Linked DNA regions of Homo sapiens: region 2 is linked to region 1. Evidence: fine-mapped expression QTL. A gene starts in region 1. The other region holds a variant in brackets. All regions are shown on one strand. Distances are between the middles of the regions.

Region 1 (10,641 bases):
GGATTGCTCAGTAGAAACCTTATAGGCCAGTAAAGAATAGGATATTTTCGAAGTGTGGAAAGGAGAAAAAAAGCTAACAACAAATAATACTATGTCAAGCAAAATTATCTTTCATAAATGAAGATGAAATAAAGTCTTTCCCAGATAAGCCAATGCTGAGGAAAATCATTGCCATTGAACTGACCCTAAAAGAAATGCTCAAGGAAGTCCTAAACCTGGAAGCAAAAGAACATAATGGAAACACATGAAGGTATAAAACTCACTGGTAAAGTAATCACACATAAGATAAAGAGAAAAGACTCAAATGATACCACTACAGAAATCCACCAAATCACAAAGGTAGTCAATATAGGAAAAAGAAAGCAATAAAGAATATAGAAAACAAACAGAAAACAACTAATGATATGACAGCCTCACAATTACTAATAACCTTGAATGTAAATGGATTGAATTTTCTATTTAAAAATATAGAATGAATGAATGGATTAAAAAAAACATGATCAAACTATATGCTGCTTAGAAAAAAACTGGCCTTAAGGAAAAACTTAAGAATTTTTTAAAAAATCATGAAACAAATGAAAATGGAAGCACAACACACCAAAACCAGTGGGATACAGCAAAAGTAGTGCTAAGAAGGAATTTTATAGCAATAAATGCCTACATCAAAAAAAAAATAGAAAGATAACTTAACAGTCTAACAACACACCTCAAGAAACTTGAAAGGCAAGAACAATGCAAACTTAAATTTAGCAGAATAAAAGAAGGAATAAAGATCAGAGCAAAAGTAAATGAAATAGAGACTAAAAAATTACAAGGGTCAACAAAATGAAAAGTTAGTTTTCTATAGAGTCAAACAAAATTGATAAACCACTAGCTCAAATAATGAAGAAAAGGAGAGAAGACTCTAACAAAATTGGACATTAAAAAGAAGACATTTCAACTGGTACGACAGAAATTCAAAAGATCATCACACACTATGCTGACATATAGGCTGACAAACTGGAAAACCTAAAGGAAATGGATAGATTCCTGGAAATATAGAACTTCCCAAGGTTGAGTCAGGAAGAAATAGAAAACCTGAACAGTCCAATATCAAGTAGGGAAGTTGAATCGGTTATAAAATGTCTCACAACAAAGATAAGCCCAGGAGCACATATATTCACAGGTATATTCTACTAAATGTACAAAGAAATAATACCAATTCTTCTGAAACTATTCTAAAAAAATTAAAGAGTATGAAATTTTTTTCTAACTCATCTATGAGGCCAGCATCACCTTGATATTACAACCAGATAAGGACACAACAACAACGCACACCACAGGCCAATATCCTGATGAACACAAATGCATAAATCCTCAACAAAATACTAGCAAATGGAATCTTGGAGCTCATAAGAAATATATATATGATGATCAACATATTTATACTGGGCATGCAAGGATGGTTCATCACATGCAAATCAATAAACATGATACTTCACATTAATAGAATGAAGCATAAAAACCATATGATCATCTCAATAGATGTAGAAAAAGCATTTGCTAAAATTCAACATTGCTTTATGATAAAAACTTTCAACAAAGTAGGCATAGGAGCAACATATCTCAAAATAATAAAGGCTATATATGATAAACCCACAGCTAACACCATATGAATGAAGAAAATGTGAAAACCTTTGTTCTAAGATATGAAACAAGGATGCCCACTTTCCCCAAAACTATTCAACATGATACTGGAAGTTTCAGCCAGAGAAATCAGGAAAGAGAAAGAAACCAAGGCATCCAAATTGGAAAAGAGGAAGTCAAATTGTCCCTCTCTGCTGTTGATATAATCTTATATATAGCAAAATTTAAGACTCTAGCAAAAACTACTAGATTTGAATTCAGTAAAGTTGCAGGGTACAAAATCAATGTAGAAAATTCAGTAGCATTTCTATGTATCAATAATTATCTAGCCGATACCGAAATCAAAAGGCAATAACCTTTATAATAGCTGCCCTCCTCCAAAAAATACAGAGGAATAAATATAACCAAGGAGGTAAAAGGTCTCCACAAGGAAAACTATAAAACATTGATGAAAGAAATTGAAGATGACACAAACAAATGGAAAAACATCCAGTGCTCATGGATGGGAAGAAATAATAGCAAAGAACAAGAAAAAAAATACTAAAATTTATATAAAGCCCCAAACAAGCCTGAACAGCTAATGCAATTCAGGGCAAAAAGAACAAAGCTGGAGGCATCACATTACCTGACTTCAAAATGTATTACAAGGATATAGTACCCAATACAGCATGCTGTTGTAGAAAAATAGACACAAAATCCCATGGAATAGAATAGAAATTCCAGAAAGAAAGTCACATACTTAGAGCCAACTGATCTTCAACAAAGCCAATGAGAACTTACATTGAAGACAGGACATGTTCTTCAATTTATGGTGCTGGAAAAATTGGATAGCCACATGCAGAAGAATGAAATTAGACCCCTATTTCTCACCATAAACTCAAAATTGATTAAGGACTTAAACATAAGACCTTAAATAATAAAACATTAGAACAAAACCTAGAGAAATATTTCCTGGACATTGGTTTAGGCAAATAATTTATGACTAGGACATCAAAAGAACAGGTGACAACAACAACAAAAAAGTGGGACCACATTAAACTAAAAAGCTTCTGCACAGTAAAGGAAACAATCAACAAAGCAGAGAGCAATCTTTTGAATGGGAGAAAATATTTGCAAAATATTTGTCTTGCAGGGAAATTATATCCAGAATATACAAGAAACTCAAACAACTCAGCAGGAAAAAAAACCCAAATAAACCCATTAAAAAGTGGGCAAAGAATATGAATAAACATTTTTCAAAAGAAGACATACAAATGGCTAACAAGTATATGAAAAAATGGTCAACATCAAAAATCATCAGATAAATGCAAATCAAAACCACAGTGAGATATCATCTTACTTCAGTCAGAATGGCTATCATTAAAAATAACATGTTGGTGAGGATGTGGAGAAATTTTCACACATTTGCTAGTAGGAATGTAAACAAGTACAGTCACTATGAAAACAGTATGGAGAGTTCTCAGCTATTTTATCCAGCTATCTCACTACTAGATATCTACATAAAGGAAAAGAAATGGCTATATCAAAGGGATAACTACTACACTCACATGCTTATTGTAGCACTATTTACAACAGCAAAGATATGCAATCAGTCTAAGTGTGCATAGATGGATGAATGCATAAAAAACAAAAATGTGGTAGATATACACATTGAAATAATATTCAGGCATAAATGGATGAAATCATGCCATGTGCAGCAACATGGATGGAACTGGAGGTGATTATCTTAAGTAAAATAAACCAGACACACAAAAAGTAAATATTGCATGTTCTCACTTTCATGTGGGAGCTAAAAAATTTGATTCCATGGAAGTAGGTAGTGGAAAGATAAATTAAAAATACTGGGAAGGGTCAGGATGAACGGTTGCATGAAGATAATTCTGTTAAATAGTGTTAGGGTTCTCTAGGGGGACAGCACTAATAGGATAGATGCATATATGAAAGGGAGTTTATTAAGAAGTATTGACTCACACAATCACAAGGTGAAGACCCACAGTAGGTCATCTGCAAGCTGAGGAGCAAGGAAGCCAGTTCGAGTCCCAAAACCTCAAAAGTAGGGAAGCCGACAGTGCAGCTTTCAGTCTGTGGCTGAAGGCCTGAGAGCCCCTGGCAAACTAATGGTGCAGGCCCAAGAGTCCAAAAGCTGGAGAACTTGGAGTCCGATGTTTGAGGTCAGAAAGCATCCAGCATGGGAGAAAGATGGAGGCCAGAAGACAGTCAGTCTAGTCATTCCACACCCCTCTGCCTTTATCCTAGCTATGCTGGCATCTGGTTAGATTGTGCCCACCCACATTGAGGCTGGGTCTGCCTCTTCTAGTCTACTGACTCAAATGTTAATCTCCTTTGGCAACTCCCTCACAGAGACACCCAGGAACAATACTTTGCATCCTTCAATCCAATCAAGCTGACACAATAATAACCATCACCCAGTGCCAATATACAATGAGATGGAGTAATGTTTGATATCAGAATAGGGTGACTATACTTAACAAAAATGTATGTACTAGGGTGACAGAAGCCCTGAATACCCTGACTTGATTACTATGCATTATGTACGTATAACAAAATATCTCATGTACCCTATACATTTGTACAAACAAAAAAGAAAAAGATAAAGAAAAATATTGAAGAAATAACAGCTGAAAACTTCCCAAATTTGGTGGAAAATATTAATTCACTAGTTCAAGATATTCAAGAAGCCACAAGTAAGAGAAACACATAAGGTACATTCAAGTACATTTTAGTTAAATTTCTTATAGTAAAGAGAAAATATTAAAGCAACTAGAGAAAAATGACACATTATATGAGTGGAAAAATGATACAATTAATGGTAGCATTCTCAACAGAAACTTTTGAAGACAGAGACATTGAAAATGGCATAGAAAGATGAAAGAAAAAAACCCTGATGACTAGTAATTTTATATCCAGTAAAAATACATTTCACAAAGAAAGAAAAAGTGAAGATATTTTCAAATAAATAAAAATGGAGATAATGTATTGCTAGCAAAACTACACCATAAGAAATACTAAGAGAAATCCTTAAGGATGAAGGAACATAAAATCTGATTATACAAGAAAGATTGAAGAGCACTGAAAATGATAAATATTGGTTAAATATAAAAGATTTGCACAAACATAATTTTCTCTTAATTTCTTTATAATAGCATATGCCTGTTCAAAAATTATGACAACGTGTTAGTAGATTTACATAATTGGGACTAAGACATTGCAAATTTTCTACATTTAACTGGAAATAATTCAATGTTAAGTTTAAGTAGATTATGTTAAAAATACATGCTGTAATTGCTAGATCAACAACTAAAACAACATTGCAAGAAAAATAGTTATAAAATCAATTGTTATTTTGTTCCAACATCTAACTCATCTTCCTAACCCCAAAGCAGGGTCCTGGGAATAGTATGGTAAACAAAAGAAAGGCTTCTTAAGTCTACTTACTACTGCCTCACCAATTGACTGTGTTATCTTGGGTAAGTTATTTAATATTTTTCATGCCTCAGTGTTCTTATTGGAAAAATAGGAATAATAATAATACTCACATATTTTATTAAATTTATATAATGAAATTAGTCAATATCTGTTGATGAATACATGTTGCCAATTATCATTGTTGTTTCTATTAAATCAGTCAATGAGTGAAGATGTATGTAGAAGGTGCAACTATTTACACCATTAAGTATATCAGAGAGACATGCATTTTAAGAGTGACAAGTCAGATTAACCTAGTTGTAGGTAGACTTTTGGGACATTTTAAGGTTTCAGAACAATCTGAAGGTGGAAAGTATATCACTTGTCTGGATGCAGATATTGCAGCATTGTTGAAACAAAGGAAGAGGATGAAAATAAGGTAAAGTTGCTTTTAAAATGATGCATCTGAGAAAAAAATGGAATAGACAAATGAGGATGCAGGAATAAATTGACCCTGAAAGAGATCAGAATTTTCTTCAGAATGACTTTGAAACCAGGCACATATCCAAAGTAGTTATATCAAGCTCTTGAGACAGCAGTGGGGAGCAGCTGAATTCTTGTTTCATTTTTAAATTATACATCTTATGGTATAAATTTATAAGCATAAGTCCTTAGTTCTGTAATTTTGGACCAGTTATTTAAAGTCTATTAGGCTCAGTTACACTTCTATAAAGTGTAACTATTAACACTATCTCACTAGGCTGCTGTAAATTTTAAAAGAGATTTATGTTGTGAAAAAAATTAGTGTTTAATACTTAGCACATGATACAATACTTATTATTTAAATCATGATCCTAGTATCTCTTGTTCACATTCCCCTTTCTGCTTTCCCCAAAAGGATATTCCCAACTAATGACAAAAAAACACAATTAGACGTGCTTCCTGAGACAGCACCCATTGGGACTAGAGAATCCTCTGAGAAAGAAGCTGTTTGGATGGAAGAAGGTATTATTTACCACCTGGAACTAGGGGTGTGGAAGAAGATTTCTTTGTATCATTTGGAGACATCACACTGCTCAGAGTAGGAGATTTCAAGATGCATCTCAAGTCTTTCTCCTGTGGTCTATCCTGCTGGGAGGCAGTCTAGTGCATGGGAGCTAAAAGGCAGGACTTGCTTTGTGAGCCTCTTCAGGTCAGCGTGAGTCTGTTCAGGTGAGTGGAGAATCCTCCCTTGACTTATGCTTTGGTTTAGAGTAGAGTTTTTGGAGGCAGCAGTACCTGATTTTGGGCTGAGAGATGCATGCTGCACAACCTGCCTTGAGCCCTGACATTTTCTTCCGTGCTTAACATAGATTCACAGGTAAAAGAAGCCTGCCCTACTCTGCCCAAGGAATTTGGAAAGGGTAAAATGGCTTGGAAGAGGGGTTGTATAGATAAAGTGATTATCGTTGAACTAACTATTTCTTACTCCATATTCATATTAGTGTGTGTTCCATAGTCTCTAAAGAGAGTCATCATTGTATGGGGAAAATAAGGATAGATTAAGAGTCACCATACTTGTTTTCTAATACTGGTTCTGTGTGACTTCAAGAAAGTCACTTCACCTCTCTTGATCTTTGTTACCTGATCTATAAAACAAAATCCATCAAGATCAAGTTTCCCCACCTCCCCACAAAGTTCTAACAAGCAATATGGGTGTGTCCATATGTGTATTCTTATGTGATAGTGTATGTATAAAGACAATATAAACGTATATGTGGTGTGTGTATCTTTATATGTGATGTGTGTATCTACGAATTTGCATGCTATCTATATACATATGTGTTTGTAATGTATGTGCCTGCCTGATATATTTGTGGATATGGCCATTAATAGCAAATGTATAATTTATAGTTTTGAATGTGTAAGATATGCATAATTATGTGTGAATGCTATAAAGCATATATACACCTGCATGTATGTAGTCATACATATGTTTGTGTGCAAGTATGTGCATATGAATGTCTGTGATTGTGCATCTGTGTATGTGTATATGTACATACAGTCATATGGGAATGGACCCATACATTTGTGTCTAATTTAACAAATACTTTTTTGAAGTTTGAGTAGAGTCTAAATCAGAGCTGCCTTTTTAAGTTGCAACAGGAACAAGAGAAAAAGAATCCATATCATCCACCTTTTAAAGAAGTTAGGCATCTACTGGCAAGGTGGAAGAAATCAACAAATCTATCAGGGATATACCTCTCAGAATGGGGCAGACCAACGTAACCTCCTGGAGGGATTTTGTCTTCCTGGGCTTCTCCAGTTCTGGGGAGTTGCAGCTCCTTCTCTTTGCCTTGTTCCTCTCTCTGTATCTAGTCACTCTGACCAGCAATGTCTTCATTATCATAGCCATCAGGCTGGATAGCCATCTGCACACCCCCATGTACCTCTTCCTTTCCTTCCTATCCTTCTCTGAGACCTGCTACACTTTGGGCATCATCCCTAGAATGCTCTCTGGCCTGGCTGGGGGGGACCAGGCTATCTCCTATGTGGGCTGTGCTGCCCAGATGTTCTTTTCTGCCTCATGGGCCTGTACTAACTGCTTCCTTCTGGCTGCCATGGGCTTTGACAGATATGTGGCCATCTGTGCTCCACTCCACTATGCCAGCCACATGAATCCTACCCTCTGTGCCCAGCTGGTCATTACTTCCTTCCTGACTGGATACCTCTTTGGACTGGGAATGACACTAGTTATTTTCCACCTCTCATTCTGCAGCTCCCATGAAATCCAGCACTTTTTTTGTGACACGCCACCTGTGCTGAGCCTAGCCTGTGGAGATACAGGCCCGAGTGAGCTGAGGATCTTTATCCTCAGTCTTTTGGTCCTCTTGGTCTCCTTCTTCTTCATCACCATCTCCTACGCCTACATCTTGGCAGCAATACTGAGGATCCCCTCTGCTGAGGGGCAGAAGAAGGCCTTCTCCACTTGTGCCTCGCACCTTACAGTGGTCATTATTCATTATGGCTGTGCTTCCTTCGTGTACCTGAGGCCCAAAGCCAGCTACTCTCTTGAGAGAGATCAGCTTATTGCCATGACCTATACTGTAGTGACCCCCCTCCTTAATCCCATTGTTTATAGTCTAAGGAATAGGGCTATACAGACAGCTCTGAGGAATGCTTTCAGAGGGAGATTGCTGGGTAAAGGATGAAGGTTACCCCAATAGGACACTTTCTTCTGTGTAGGCTGGGCATAGACCAAGAACCCAAGCCAAAGGGCCAGGTATTCAAGGCCTCAGGCCAAAGCTGTCCTACCCCCAATCTTCTGGGAAAGCCTTATCCTGCCTCTTGCCCTTCCCCCTGACTGCTTGGAATGCAGAGGCGGGGCTTCCTGCTCTGCTCACTGTGCACAACTCAAAATGAGCCCAAAATCTGAATTTTAACTTTCAGCCTCCTAGATGCCACCCCTAGTTACTGAAACCCATTGAGAATTAAAAATTTAATTAAGATAATCAAGAATTTTTTAATTGAGCTGAACAAAATGAGGGAAGTTTGGAGTGTTCAAGTTCAAGGCAGGGCTGGCTGGAGCCCATCAGGGATACTGTAGAGATTTCTAAAATCATTACATAATTAGACTATTTGACCTGTAATGTTCTTCCAAGATTTGAAACCTGGGGAATATCAGCTTGACAGGTTAGTTTAAAGCTTTGTTAAATGAACAGGTGGGTCATTTTTACTCCCACTGGGTGTCTTTCATCTTTTTATGTTTTTATTTTTTTTAATTTCAACTATTATTTCATATACAGTGGGGCACATGTGCTTATACATTCCTCATTGTGCTATTGACAGTAGCAAAAACATGGAATCATCTTTTTATATAGTTGTCCTCACTATCTCTGACTCTGTTACTTTGCCCTTTTTGTTTTGATTGATTTTCCAAGCTGGGTGCACTCTATTTCAGAAAATATATTTACTTCCTATTTTTTTTTATAACTGTTAATGTTCCCTGGTAGCTTCAGAATCTTGAGTGTCAAAGACCTTTCTCATTTGGGTCGCTTATCAAATTGGATACTGTTCTTTTGAATCTATTGCAGAACTATCTATTCTGCCTATTCCACTTTCCACATATAATGTGGTTATATATAGCGGCGGACATTATTAGAGAAAGTGTAATGAACTCACAAGACCGTCAGGCAGGAGTTTGAATCCAAACTCTTCAACTTACTAGCTGTGTGACTCTAGGTAAGTTATTTAACATTTTTTTCAGCTTCCGAGTCTTATCTTTACAATGGTTGGTGACTAAACAGGATCATGCATACAAAGAATTTAGCACAACCCTTGGATCATAGCGATCGTCCAATAAATTCCAGTTGCTACTATTAAAATGTGTGAAGGAAAAAGATATTGGCTTTTAGTTTAGGTAGAGTTTACTCTAGGTGGAGGATCAGAGAAGACTTCATGTCTTAAATAGTATCTGAACTTGTTCCTAAAGGATGGGTGAGCTTTGAATGCACTGACTGGGGAGAAAGTACATTCTCAGAAGAGAGAATGTAATAGCCAAAGGCTTGATGGTAAGACAATATAAGCCTAGTTTAATGTGTGTGAGTTATTCAGAGGGGCTGGAAACAACTCACAAATGATGCTGAGAAGTTAGTTTGAGTCATGACTTACTTGTTGAAATAATTTGAATACCTTGCTTCAGACATGGTCCTTTTGTCTATAGGAGATAAGGCACAGTAAAACGTTGAACAGAGAGAGGCATCTGGGAAGGGATTCAGGAAGATTAATCCAGCAGCAAAGGGGATGATAGATTTCAGTAGAGAGAAACCAGAGGCAAGGAGATCAGCAAGAAACCCATGGATATCAGCTTAAAAAAAGGCAAAGAGGCTTGAATATGGATAGTGACATTCAGAGACTGAAGGAAATCACAAACATGAGATTTTGAGAAGGTAGAATTCACAGGATTTGGCAGTGAGATAGAAGTGGGGCATGGCTTGAGAGACAAGGAAAGACCTTAGGCCGAGAAGATATTTTTCAGACAGAAATCCATATTTTTTCATGCTTTCAGGAAAGAAATACATCCTCTAATTGGAATTTGATGAAAACAATTTGAGAGGAAGGAAGCTAGAGCTCAGAGAAGAGAACAGGATGAAGACAAGTAGATGAGTTAGTCAGATAGCCAAAAGGGCCTCATCAGGGGAGAAAGGCCATCTACTCTGAAGTTCTCAATATTGGAAGAAGTAATGCCTCATTGCACTGAGGCCATGTGAGCAAATTCATTTCACCAGTTCATTCAGTCTGCCCAGCATAACATTGACTAAATGCACAGTGACGAATGGTTAGTAAGGATGTTTCAAGTATTGCTAAGTAATACTTAGAGGTCTAACTTCCACATGTAGTAGTCTTAAGTATGGAAGGGTATAAAATCACTTGGAGGGATTTTTCCAAATAGGTGTTTTTGGAATCTATCTAATTTGTTTCTACCTTGAAACAATTGATTTGGGATAGGGACAACATAATAGTCTTCAAAATCTCGTTTGGTGATTCAAATTTCCTCTCTTGATTAAGTATGTGACTACGCGCTTAGAAAGGGCAAACTCTTCTTCCAGG
Region 2 (10,641 bases), 51 kb after region 1:
ACTCCAAAAAATGAATGGGAAGTGTTGCCTTGGTAGTTAGAAGTGATCACATTTCTCTAAGACAAACAATTCTGTATTCTGAATTGAATAAACCAGGTAGACTTTTAAAGCCCTACTTTCTATAGGGGGTAAGTACATTGTTCCGCTTCGTATTTCTTCACCTTCTTATCCCATAACAACCACTATAAAAACAGGCAGAAAACTCATCCTCACTGACTATGGCATTCCAGAGAACTAGACTGAACATTTATTAATGTTCATTAGATCTTTTATGGAATCATAGATCCAGATCTGAATCAGGTCAAGAATGGCCTCTCCTCTGTCTCTACTGACCTATATTCTCCTTCTTCAGCACGTTGATCAGAATCTGTGTCTTCCAGTAAACTTTCTTGATCAACCTCTTCCCACTATCATAGCTTCTTTATCTGCATTGTCTTTGAATTCATGTAATTGAGAATTTCTTCTGTGTGTGACAGTGAAAGAGAGGTGAGTATGTGTTGTAATTTAAGAATTTTAGATCAGTTCAAATGTATATATTCCAAAATTGCAGTTCAAATTCAATTATATTATTGGGTGGACATGTAAGGAAAAAACTTTACGTTTAATTTGGTGTAGCCTGGTACAGAAGATTAAGAGGAGGTTTGGATATTGTAATTTGGATATTGTGCTATCCAATATTTGCTTTCAGATATAGAAACTGAGGTTTTTAGAAATGAAGAGACTTGTCTGAGGACACACAGTCAGACAAGAATACAGCTATGATGTAAATCTAATTTACCTAATGTCCAGTGTAATATTATCTAAACCTCCTAATCCTGCCTTTTAAAGCTACATCTTAATTTCTGCTACCAATACTTTTGTCTCCTTTCCCACCCCATCCATGAAATGACATATGTGAGGGCATGGAGGACACTCAATATATGTTAACAAATGAGCCTGCTTTAATTAAGTTAATTTAGACAACAAAAATACAGGGACTATTTGGGCTATTGTCTTTGGCCTTTCCTGTAGCTAATTCCATACTGCTGTTACCTTCTGCATGTTCTAGTGGGTCTGCAGAATATAAAGTTCCATGTTGAAGTGAAATGAGGACTCCCAAAGCCCAACCTGGTAGTGAGGAGGAATGGAGGGAGCCTTAGTTACCTGCCGGATTTGAGCTCCTTCTGGTGTTAGAAGTCCTTCAAATAGTAGATCATCAGCTACCTTGTTGATATCCCTTAGCCGAGGCTCATTGGTATTCAAATCCTGAATGGGAAAATTCATCCAAAGCAGTGTAAATTCATCCAAAGCAGTGTAAATCCCCTCATCAAGAATCTACCATACTTACCTGTCCATCTCTGCCCCTACATCACCGTAATACACACCAAGCTCCTCTCCTCCAATCCACCACTGAGAAGAGTATCCTTAAAGATCTTGACACCTAGTGGCTGTCCAAAACTTGTCAAGATAACTATTATTTATCTGTAGTATGAAGCACAGCCATTTTTCTAGATTTCTTAAAATCTCCCCTGGATTAAATTATACCATTAGAGGGATTGATACCTGAGCTGTGTAACATCCTTTTCTACCAGTACAAACTCCAGCTTTAAAGATTTCTTTAACTGAGTTATTATCTGCCTATATTATGAGATATTGTAAGAAACAGCTCTAGGGAGTGCTCTCTCTCTCTCTCTCTCTCTCTCTCTCTGTGTGTGTGTGTGCGCGTGTGTGTGTGTTAAATCCCACGTGGAAGATATCAAAAGAAAAAGAAAAGAAGGAATGTACACTCACTGCTAGTTAAGATAATGGAAAAAAATCTAAGGGAAGAAAGAATATTGAAAGGGTTTTAGGTAGGCAAAAAATTAGAAATTGTTTGTCAAGTCAGGTTCTTCCTTCTTCCACCCCAAACTCTGCCCCATAATTAAACTTTACACATGGTACAACAATACCTTATCCCAACCTGGGCACTGGAAACAAAGTATAGTATAGGGCAAGTTGTGAAGAATTCAGGAAGACCAGCACTCCAGGGAGGATTTTGGAGTGGCAGGCACTGAAGGCTGCAGTTAGGGTAACTAGTTTTCTCTGCATTTCCCTTCCAATTATTAGCAACTACAATACCTAGAGGGAGATCTCAGCCACAGAGTTGCCAATAGCTTTGGGGAGAATATTTAACAAGTGTGAAATAAATTAAAAGATCATGTAGAATATGCTGAGGGATAAAAGCAAACAATGGCAACCTTCAAGAGAAGGTTCCTCTTTCTCACCTTTTGGAACTCATCAAACTTTTTCTGCAGCTCCCAAACATCATCTAGTTCCACTCCAGTGTTTTCTGCCTTTTTCTCTTGAATCCATTCCAGCATGTCTCCTGCCTCATAGGCCAATAAAAATTCATTATAACGTTGCAATAGACGACGTCTGCGTTCTTCTGCCCGATCCAAGAGGGAGCGGTATCTGGATGGAGAATTGGGAAAAGTGGAATAAAAGAAGGAGAAAATACAGAAGAGTAGAGGCTGAGTGACAAACATAGAGAAAGAAGGAACAAAAATGAAAGGGAAAACAAATCAAAAGCAAAAGAATAGTAGAAGAGAGGAGGAAATAAACTTAGAAGGAAAACAGCCTTGGGGGCAAAAAGATAAACACATAGGATTGCATTTAAAAATAGTAAAAATGCCAGTGACCCAATAGTATGACTGGCAACATTCCTTTCCCATTTCATAAAAGTGACATTTTTACATGGTAACTGACAATTGGATATGAAAAGCCTGGCATAGTAAACAAAGTTCATATAGATGTCAGGAGACTTTAATAACCTTGAAAGAATGTGGGGCAGGGAATCAGAAGAGCTCTGTGAAGTGTATGACCTCAGGAAATTGATGGAATGATTCTGGGGTTGCCTTTCCTCAAAAAGAAACCGAAACATTTAAAAGATTCTAGGTTTACTTTCGATTCTTAAAATCTTCAGATTTTCTGTGGCATCTCAAATCTAACAGATGCAGGGTCATGAGAAGAAATGCCTTTGGCGAAAAATGTCTGACCAAATACTGTTCAGTTCTCCAGGCTCCAGAACTTACTGGTTCTCAATCTGCTCCTGGCGCTGGGTGATGTTTCCTGGCTCTTCTCGTCGCCGCTGTGGGAGCATCGGGAACTCATCGTGGGCCAGTCTTCTGACATAGACAGCTGGGACAATGCCCTGATGATCAGCAGCTTCCACCTTCCACCAGTCCTGAAGGGAGAGCAGATCCCCACTCCGTCATTAATTCTTGGAAAAGCAACAAACGGGAGAGACTTCAACACTAAGTCTCTTGGCCCAGGCACAGGTTAATGGCAAAGATAAGCTAACCATGTCTAATGAGTGGCACATAATTTTCATATATGACCAAGAAATGAAATGAAGAATTGCATAGACAAGCCCCTGAAATCAAGTAATCTGATACCTAATGTTAGACCCTTAACTTTGGAGAGATTTTCAAACACCCAAGACAGCTCTTTTAATGATGGGGCACTTTGTTCATGAGGAATTTACAAAAAACACATGGAGCCAGGCTCTAGCTGGATTTCTTGGCAGTGGAGCGTCTGTGTAAGAGGATATTGCACAAAAATTCTTCTCTTCTATTCTTCTTGCAGAGGTCTGAAAAATGTGAATTGCTCTGACATTCATATACCTGAGTGTTACTTTATTTTTTATTTTTGAACTGTTGCCACATCTACCAAAACCCTGAGGCTAATTTCCTCAAAAAATAATGAAGAGGCCTAGACAAAGAAAAAATGGACTGGCACACATTATTTGATAATGAAACATCTGCCGCTCCAAACATTTACTTGTCTTTGGAATAACTATAGCCCAAACTATTTTCTTTTCTTCTTAAGAATTTTTGTAGATTAATTAGGTATCAGAGTATAAAAAATTACTTCAGTTTTTATGAAAAATATATTTAAAAATCTCAACCAATATTTTATCACTGTTCTTCCAGGCACAAGATCTAAAGAAAATCAAGTTGACAAAAGACTCATCTTTTGGTAGGCTCCTTCTAACCCCAGACATTGTTATTTTATCACTAGAAATACTGGCACAGAAGAGGAACAAGCAAAGAGGAAGAAAGAAAGAGACAGCTTAGCCCTTTAAATATATTATAGAATTTCCACTCATACTTTCTATATCTTTGGGCTAATTATATAACTTCAATTCTTTATGATTTTAACTGCAACATTGGGATTATAATTCCAAAAGATATGTGTAGGATCCTGCAAAATATCTACAGGAAAAATACTACCTAATCAGTTATAGTTATTCAAGAAATAAAATAATAAAATAAATGTTAGATGGTAAAAATATGAATATCTGGCAGGATTGGGAGAGATGGTTCTGAAAGAGCCACTTTTTGATGGAAAGATTAGAAGGAAAAGTCACCTTATTGATGGAACTGAGCAGCGTTAAGACATCACCTTTCTTCATGGTGACTTCTCGGGGGCTGCGGGCCTGGAAGTCATATAAAGCCATGACCCTTTGTTCTCCAGCAACTCCCTCCACTGGTGCA[G/T]CCTGTTGTTGCTGAATAAAAACAGGAAGCAGGTGTCAGTCACGCACTGGAAATATCTCCCTGTACAGCTTACCAGGGGTGAGTAGTCCTTTAGGCTTCCCAGGAGAAAAGAGCCTCTGGCTGGAACCTCTTACGTGGCTGCAGAGATTAAAGTATGTGGTCTTCAGAGAGACTGCTCCATTCTGACACTTATCGGGGACAGGCAGGTTGGGAACTATAAACCCAAAGCAAGGAAGGAAATACATAATTTGTCAGAAACGTATTAAATGCTCTAAGCCATCAGTTCTTAAAATGGGAGGAGTACATTTTAAGAAGTGTACTCCCTTAAGAAGGTCCAACAGGATTATACACATCAACATTTCAAAAAATTGTTTGAGAAAGTGAAAAGACCCACTCTCTGTCGTCACCTTTCCCTGTACCTCCAGTGATAATTCTTCCCACTCCTTCTGGCCTTTAAGTTACTATGTCAGGAGCTCCGGACCTTCTATTTGAGATATGAGTGATCAATAGCACAGGAAAGGCCACAGAATTTTAAAAACTGAGAACATTAACTGAGATCATTAAAAGTATCTTGTGTCTCAGTTTAGTAAGCAGCCTGCATTCTAAGGTAGAATTTTCTCTGATTTTTACTTTCTGCCAATTTCATGTCTCTGAGAAATCAAGCAAAACATAACCCCTCTTCCTAAGGAATGACCCACCCCTTCCTCAGGTTGGAGTTGAATATGCACCTCCACCGACAGAGCCCTCTAATTTCATCTCCTTTAGGTAACATGTTTCCTCATACCACACAATATATAAATCCTTCTGTTCTTGTTTAGGCACCCACTGTGCAGAGCCTGGTGAAGGCACAGTATAGGAGGTCTGTAAATATACACTGATTTGACAGACTGAGTCTACGTCTTTTGTTTACTCTGAATGTGTGGATTAACAACCTCTCATTAGAAAGAATTCCTTGAAGGTAAGAAGTGTGTCTCTTTTTTTCTACCACTACATATAGTAGACATTGTTATAACATTTATTTGATTCCAGTTCAATTAATCTTCATGACACCCAGTTTTGCCCTGTACCTGAGCCATTCTCATATTCTCAACCAATTGCATCTTCCATTCTCACATTCTTAACCAATTGCATTTTCCACAAAACTTGATTGTTTTGTGCCTCAGTGCATTTGCTCTCATGGTTTATTGACTAGAAAAACGCTTATCCTCTTTCTCTGCACAGTAAACTACCCATCTGTCTTTCCTTAATAATTCAGATCAGGCGGTTTCCCTTAGCTTACAAAAATTTTCCTGTTTTCCAGTACTGTTATTTCAAGAGAACACAAGAGGCCTTTCTTTGAGACTCTTTGTCCTGTTCATACATCTATTATATGCACTTACTGTTAAACATCTGGCCTCCTAATAGACTGTAATTTTCCTGCAAATCAGGATTTTTTATTCATACTTACATATAGTAGACATTTAATAAGTTTTGGCATTAAAAATTAAGAAACAAAAGAAGGGAGTAAAGAAGAAAGATAAGAAGGAGAGACATAAATGAAGAAAAGTAAGAAAGAAAGAAGGGTAGAAATATAAAAGGAAGGAAAGAGGAAAGCCAAAAATACATCAATGAAGACATGATACCATTTATCAAAAACCTCTTTTGGACAAAGTCTCCTTTGGACTAAATTGTGGATGCTACAGTTCCTGCATACAAGGGTCATAGAACTTAGTGTTTTCTTTGCCATTGTTTTTGGGGTTGTAGAAAGTAAAAAATCAGCAATAAAGACAATTTCTTTTTCTTTGTGGTGGGAAGTGTGAATCCTGTCATCGCTAAGTTAGTCTTACCTGGCAGGCGTTTGCCTGATTCCGCAGAGCTTTCATACTGTCTCCAAATGAATTGAGATCTAATAGAAAGGCCTCATGCTTCTTTAGAAGAGCCTGCATTTATTGATGGAAGATCATCAGAATGAATATAGGAGGAACACTATTATTTCAACTACTATTATTTTGGGTTATGCTATTTGTCTTAAATCCTGGTAAAAGCTGCTTTCCATCTATCATAAAGTTATTTTTAACCCTAAATTTGCAAGCATGAAGGAAATAGGAATTAATAAATTATAATTTCAATATGTTTACTAAAATCAAAATTAACTCAAACTTGCAAAAGTATTTTTATCAACACAGATTATAGCTGAAAAGAGGATGCTGTTGATACTGTTACTTTATAGGATAAACATTAGTGTAACTTAAAATATGCATACCAATAATTTCTAGTTCCAAAGGTTTGTGAAATACTATACCAGCTTCCTATGGGACAATGTGCAAAACAAATAAATGGATAAAAAGTGTGATTATAACCTTTGTGGTTCTTCTTGCCCCAACATATCTGTCCAATTTTATTTTAATCAAGTAATTAAGGTGTCTCTATCTTAAAACCATGATTAATTTATAAATGCTCAAGGTTACTCTGGAAAGTTTAGGATCGGATTATGACTATGACTCTGATCACACTTTTTTGATTTAGATAATCTCTAAAGAGTATATGAATCTCCATGGGATGAGAAAAATGTAGCATATCTTTTGGGATTCCTGTCAACTCTGAGGGAGTCTCAGCAGATGAAGGCCAACGGCGACCACTCTGGAAACCCCAAATAATCTGGCAGAATCTGTAGCTGTCCCACAACCTAAGCAAACCCTAAATTGATAATTTGGTTGCGTTTGTTGAGGATTCACAATGTTAAACCCACCCCCACCTTACCCCAGCTGCTTCTTCATCAGCACCATAGTTAGTATTATCTACAATAGGTTCCTTCTCTCTGATCCATGTTTCTGCTTCATGCAGGTCAGCCAGGTACTGCTGGAACTGGACATTGGCTTCAAGATCATTTTGTCGCCTAGCAGCTCGAGCACGGAGAGACTCCATATTCTGGTTCAAACTCTTGACCCTAGAGGCCACATCTTCTGCAGCAAAGTGTCCTATGGAGTAATTATAGAAAAGGTGAGTATGATCCTCATGAGTGTTTACCATACTCTAATCCTTTTGGTACCTTGGAAAAGAGAAAGGAAGTGATAAAAATGGTATGTTATTTAGTCGACGTTATATTTTTCTTGAGTTACCTGGGAATTGAAATATCCTAAGTGAGATTAAGTAACAAAAGGTACTAATGGGAGATATGCATGTGGTGGTGAATGGGTTGGTATTGTCTGACAAAGACAGACTTGAAAACAGAATACTAATGTGTGGGTGACTGAGAGTTCCAAAATCATGTCTTCTTTAGATGAAGCAGAAAAATCAGCTGATTTCCATTTCTTCCCATAAAGGAGTTATTACTATGAGAGTTGCTCTTCCACCCTAAACAACTAGAAAACAGGAAAAGCTGTAAGATAAAATGATTTTCAGACAATGGAGAGAGGACTCTGATTCCTGAGAGAAGGGAAATAAATGAGATATATTTTATAATTGCCAAGCTTATGCCTCAGGAGGTTTCTGGGCTGTAGGCCTGGGTAGCTAACCCAGATAGAACCACCAGTCACACTGAATTGAGGACACAGAGATCAACATTTGGGAAAGACAAGAGAACTAGAACTTGTGAGGTTGAGTGTCAAAGAGAAGGGTGTTACAGAGAGATAGACCTTTTCAGAGAAGTTCCCTAGAGTATTTGTCTGATTACTCATATGCACACATGTATAAGGAAATCCTGGAGGGTGAGAAAAGAGTGACTTAAAAGCAGTGGACAAACAACTTCTAGGCCTCAATTAAGAATGAAAATAGTTAACATTCCACCCATCAAAGTGGAAAAATATTGTAATACATGAGATAGGGTCCTCAGAAGAGTAACATATCTCAATATTACTTTCATCTCTAAATCAGTCCCCTAATAAACCCTGCCCCAGGAGTACCATAACAAAACAGATCCAAGGAGCTCAACAATCACCGAGCTGAATAAACAAGGAAAACTCCATCAAGTTATAGCATAATCAAGTTGTTTAATACCAGTGATAAAGAGAAAAGCTTTAAAACAGGTAGAGGGGGAAAAAAAGACATATTACATACAGAGGAGCAAAGATCATGATGACAGCAGACTTCTTATCAGAAGCTTGCAAAGTCAGAAGACAAGACAGCACATCTTTAAAATACTGGAAGAAAGAAGTTGTCAACCAAGAATTTTATATGTAGTGAAAATATATTTCAAAAAGGAAGGTAGAATGAAGACCTTTAGATGAACAAAAGTCTAGAGAATTTATGGATAGAAGACCTGCAATATAAGGAATGTTAGATGAAGTTCTTCAAGCAGAAGAAAAATAATACAAATGAAAATATTAACCTAAAGAAAGGAATGAAGAATACTGGAAATGGGAACTATGAGGGTGAATTTTTTTCTCATTTAATAATCTCATTCAAAACCAGTTGACTACCAAAGCAAAGATAATGATGTTGAATTATAGGGTATATAACATGTAAAAATTTAAAATATGTGACACCAATAGCACAAGGGTGAAAACAAATGGAAGTATCAATTTAAGAATCTTATATTAAACATGAAATGCATAATATTATTTGAAATTAGACTATGATAGATTAAAAAAATCTATATTTTAATTCCTGGAATAGTGGCTTTCAAATTTGTGCTTTTGGGATCCCTTTACAATTTTAAAAATTATTAAGAATGCAAAATATCTTTTGCTTATATAGTTAGACTGATTAATAGTTCCCATATAAGAAATCAAAACAAGAAGCTTTGAAAGAAAAGAATGTACAAGCATATACTCCATTAGACAGAACAGTGACATCATCACCCATCTCTAGGCTCTGGGAAACTCCATTCTATGCTTATAAAAGAATAAGTCTGTAAAAGAAAATAATAGTCTTAGCATTATTTTTTTTTTTTTTTTTTTTTTTTTTGAGACGGAGTCTCGCTCTGTCGCCCAGGCCGGACTGCGGACTGCAGTGGCGCAATCTCGGCTCACTGCAAGCTCCGCTTCCCGGGTTCACGCCATTCTCCTGCCTCAGCCTCCCGAGTAGCTGGGACTACAGGCGCCCGCCACCGCGCCCGGCTAATTTTTTGTATTTTTAGTAGAGACGGGGTTTCACCTTGTTAGCCAGGATGGTCTCGATCTCCTGACCTCATGATCCACTCGCCTCGGCCTCCCAAAGTGCTGGGATTACAGGCGTGAGCCACCGCGCCCGGCCTAGTCTTAGCATTATTATGAAAATATTTTAACTTTGTGAATCCACTAAGAGTGTGTCAGAGACCCTAAAAGGACTCCAAATCACAATGGCAAAATCACTGTGCTATAATAAACATACACACACAAACACAAAACAGCAATTGTAGCTAATAGGCCAATTTGAAGATAAGATGGAATCACAATAAATACAAAATTGATCTAAAGGAGACATAAAGTGATAGATAAAAAGAAAAAACATAGCAACTTGCCAGATTTAAAATAAACCATATTGATGATTGCACTAAGTGTAAATTGTCTAAATATCACAATTAAAAAAGAAAAATTACCAGATTGAATAGAATAAAAACAAGGCCTGATTATATGCTATTTATAAGAATCTCACTTTAAATATAAGAAACAGAGTGCAAGCAAAAAGATGGAGAAATATGCACTATGCAAAAACTAATCAAAAGATAGCTCATGTGGCTTTTATTAGTTTACTAAAGGCTTCAGAACAAAGAATTTCACCAGGGATAAAGATTGATATTTCATAATGTGAAGATTTAACTTCATCAAAAAGACATAACAATACTAAATGTATATGCATGTAATAACAGAGCTTCAAAATATAAGAAACAAAAACTGATAGAACTGAAAAGAGAAGAAGACAAAATCTACAAGTATAGTTGAAGATTTAAAAAACAGGCGAATTTCTACAGTTGTTGGTTTGAATCACTCAGGTGGGATCTGAAGTTTTTCTCAGCAAACTGAATTTTAACCTATACTTTTGAAAACTAGATACTGGTTGGCATCAACTGATTCTTCAATCAACAGAGGGAAAATCCCAGTGTAATCTGCACTGCTTATACCATACCTGGCTTATGATGTTCAAAACTGAACATCATACTTAAGCATCAGGAATTTCTGAATTGGATGAAAAGAATGAACAGAGGTATTGAAACTATATGAAGTGAGAA

Alleles and levels. Positions count from the first base shown, and alleles are read on the strand shown. Sizes are in standard deviations (SD) of each study's normalised expression.
With allele G in place of T in region 2, the expression in spleen of the gene that starts at base 6,131 in region 1 is lower (moderate effect, 0.73 SD a copy in GTEx).

The links. PIP is the estimated chance that this variant, and not a neighbour inherited with it, causes the effect.
Region 2: its variant is fine-mapped to the expression of OR10Z1 in spleen (GTEx, PIP above 0.99).

Annotation. Positions count from the first base shown.
Region 1 is chr1:158,599,138-158,609,778 of GRCh38, forward strand. It overlaps OR10Z1 (olfactory receptor family 10 subfamily Z member 1), which reads left to right and starts at 6,131. Exons shown (of 2, transcript NM_001004478.2): 1 at 6,131-6,264; 2 at 7,189-10,641. The coding sequence starts at 7,302. The coding sequence ends at 8,243.
Region 2 is chr1:158,650,224-158,660,864 of GRCh38, forward strand. SPTA1 (spectrin alpha, erythrocytic 1) reads right to left here. Exons shown (of 52, transcript NM_003126.4): 19 at 7,254-7,471; 20 at 6,341-6,433; 21 at 4,388-4,525; 22 at 3,051-3,202; 23 at 2,244-2,430; 24 at 1,144-1,245. Among named protein-coding and RNA genes, the nearest start is that of SPTA1, 31 kb to the right of the region's middle. RefSeq lists a silencer at 8,483-8,683. The variant G/T (reference allele first, on the strand shown) is at 4,515.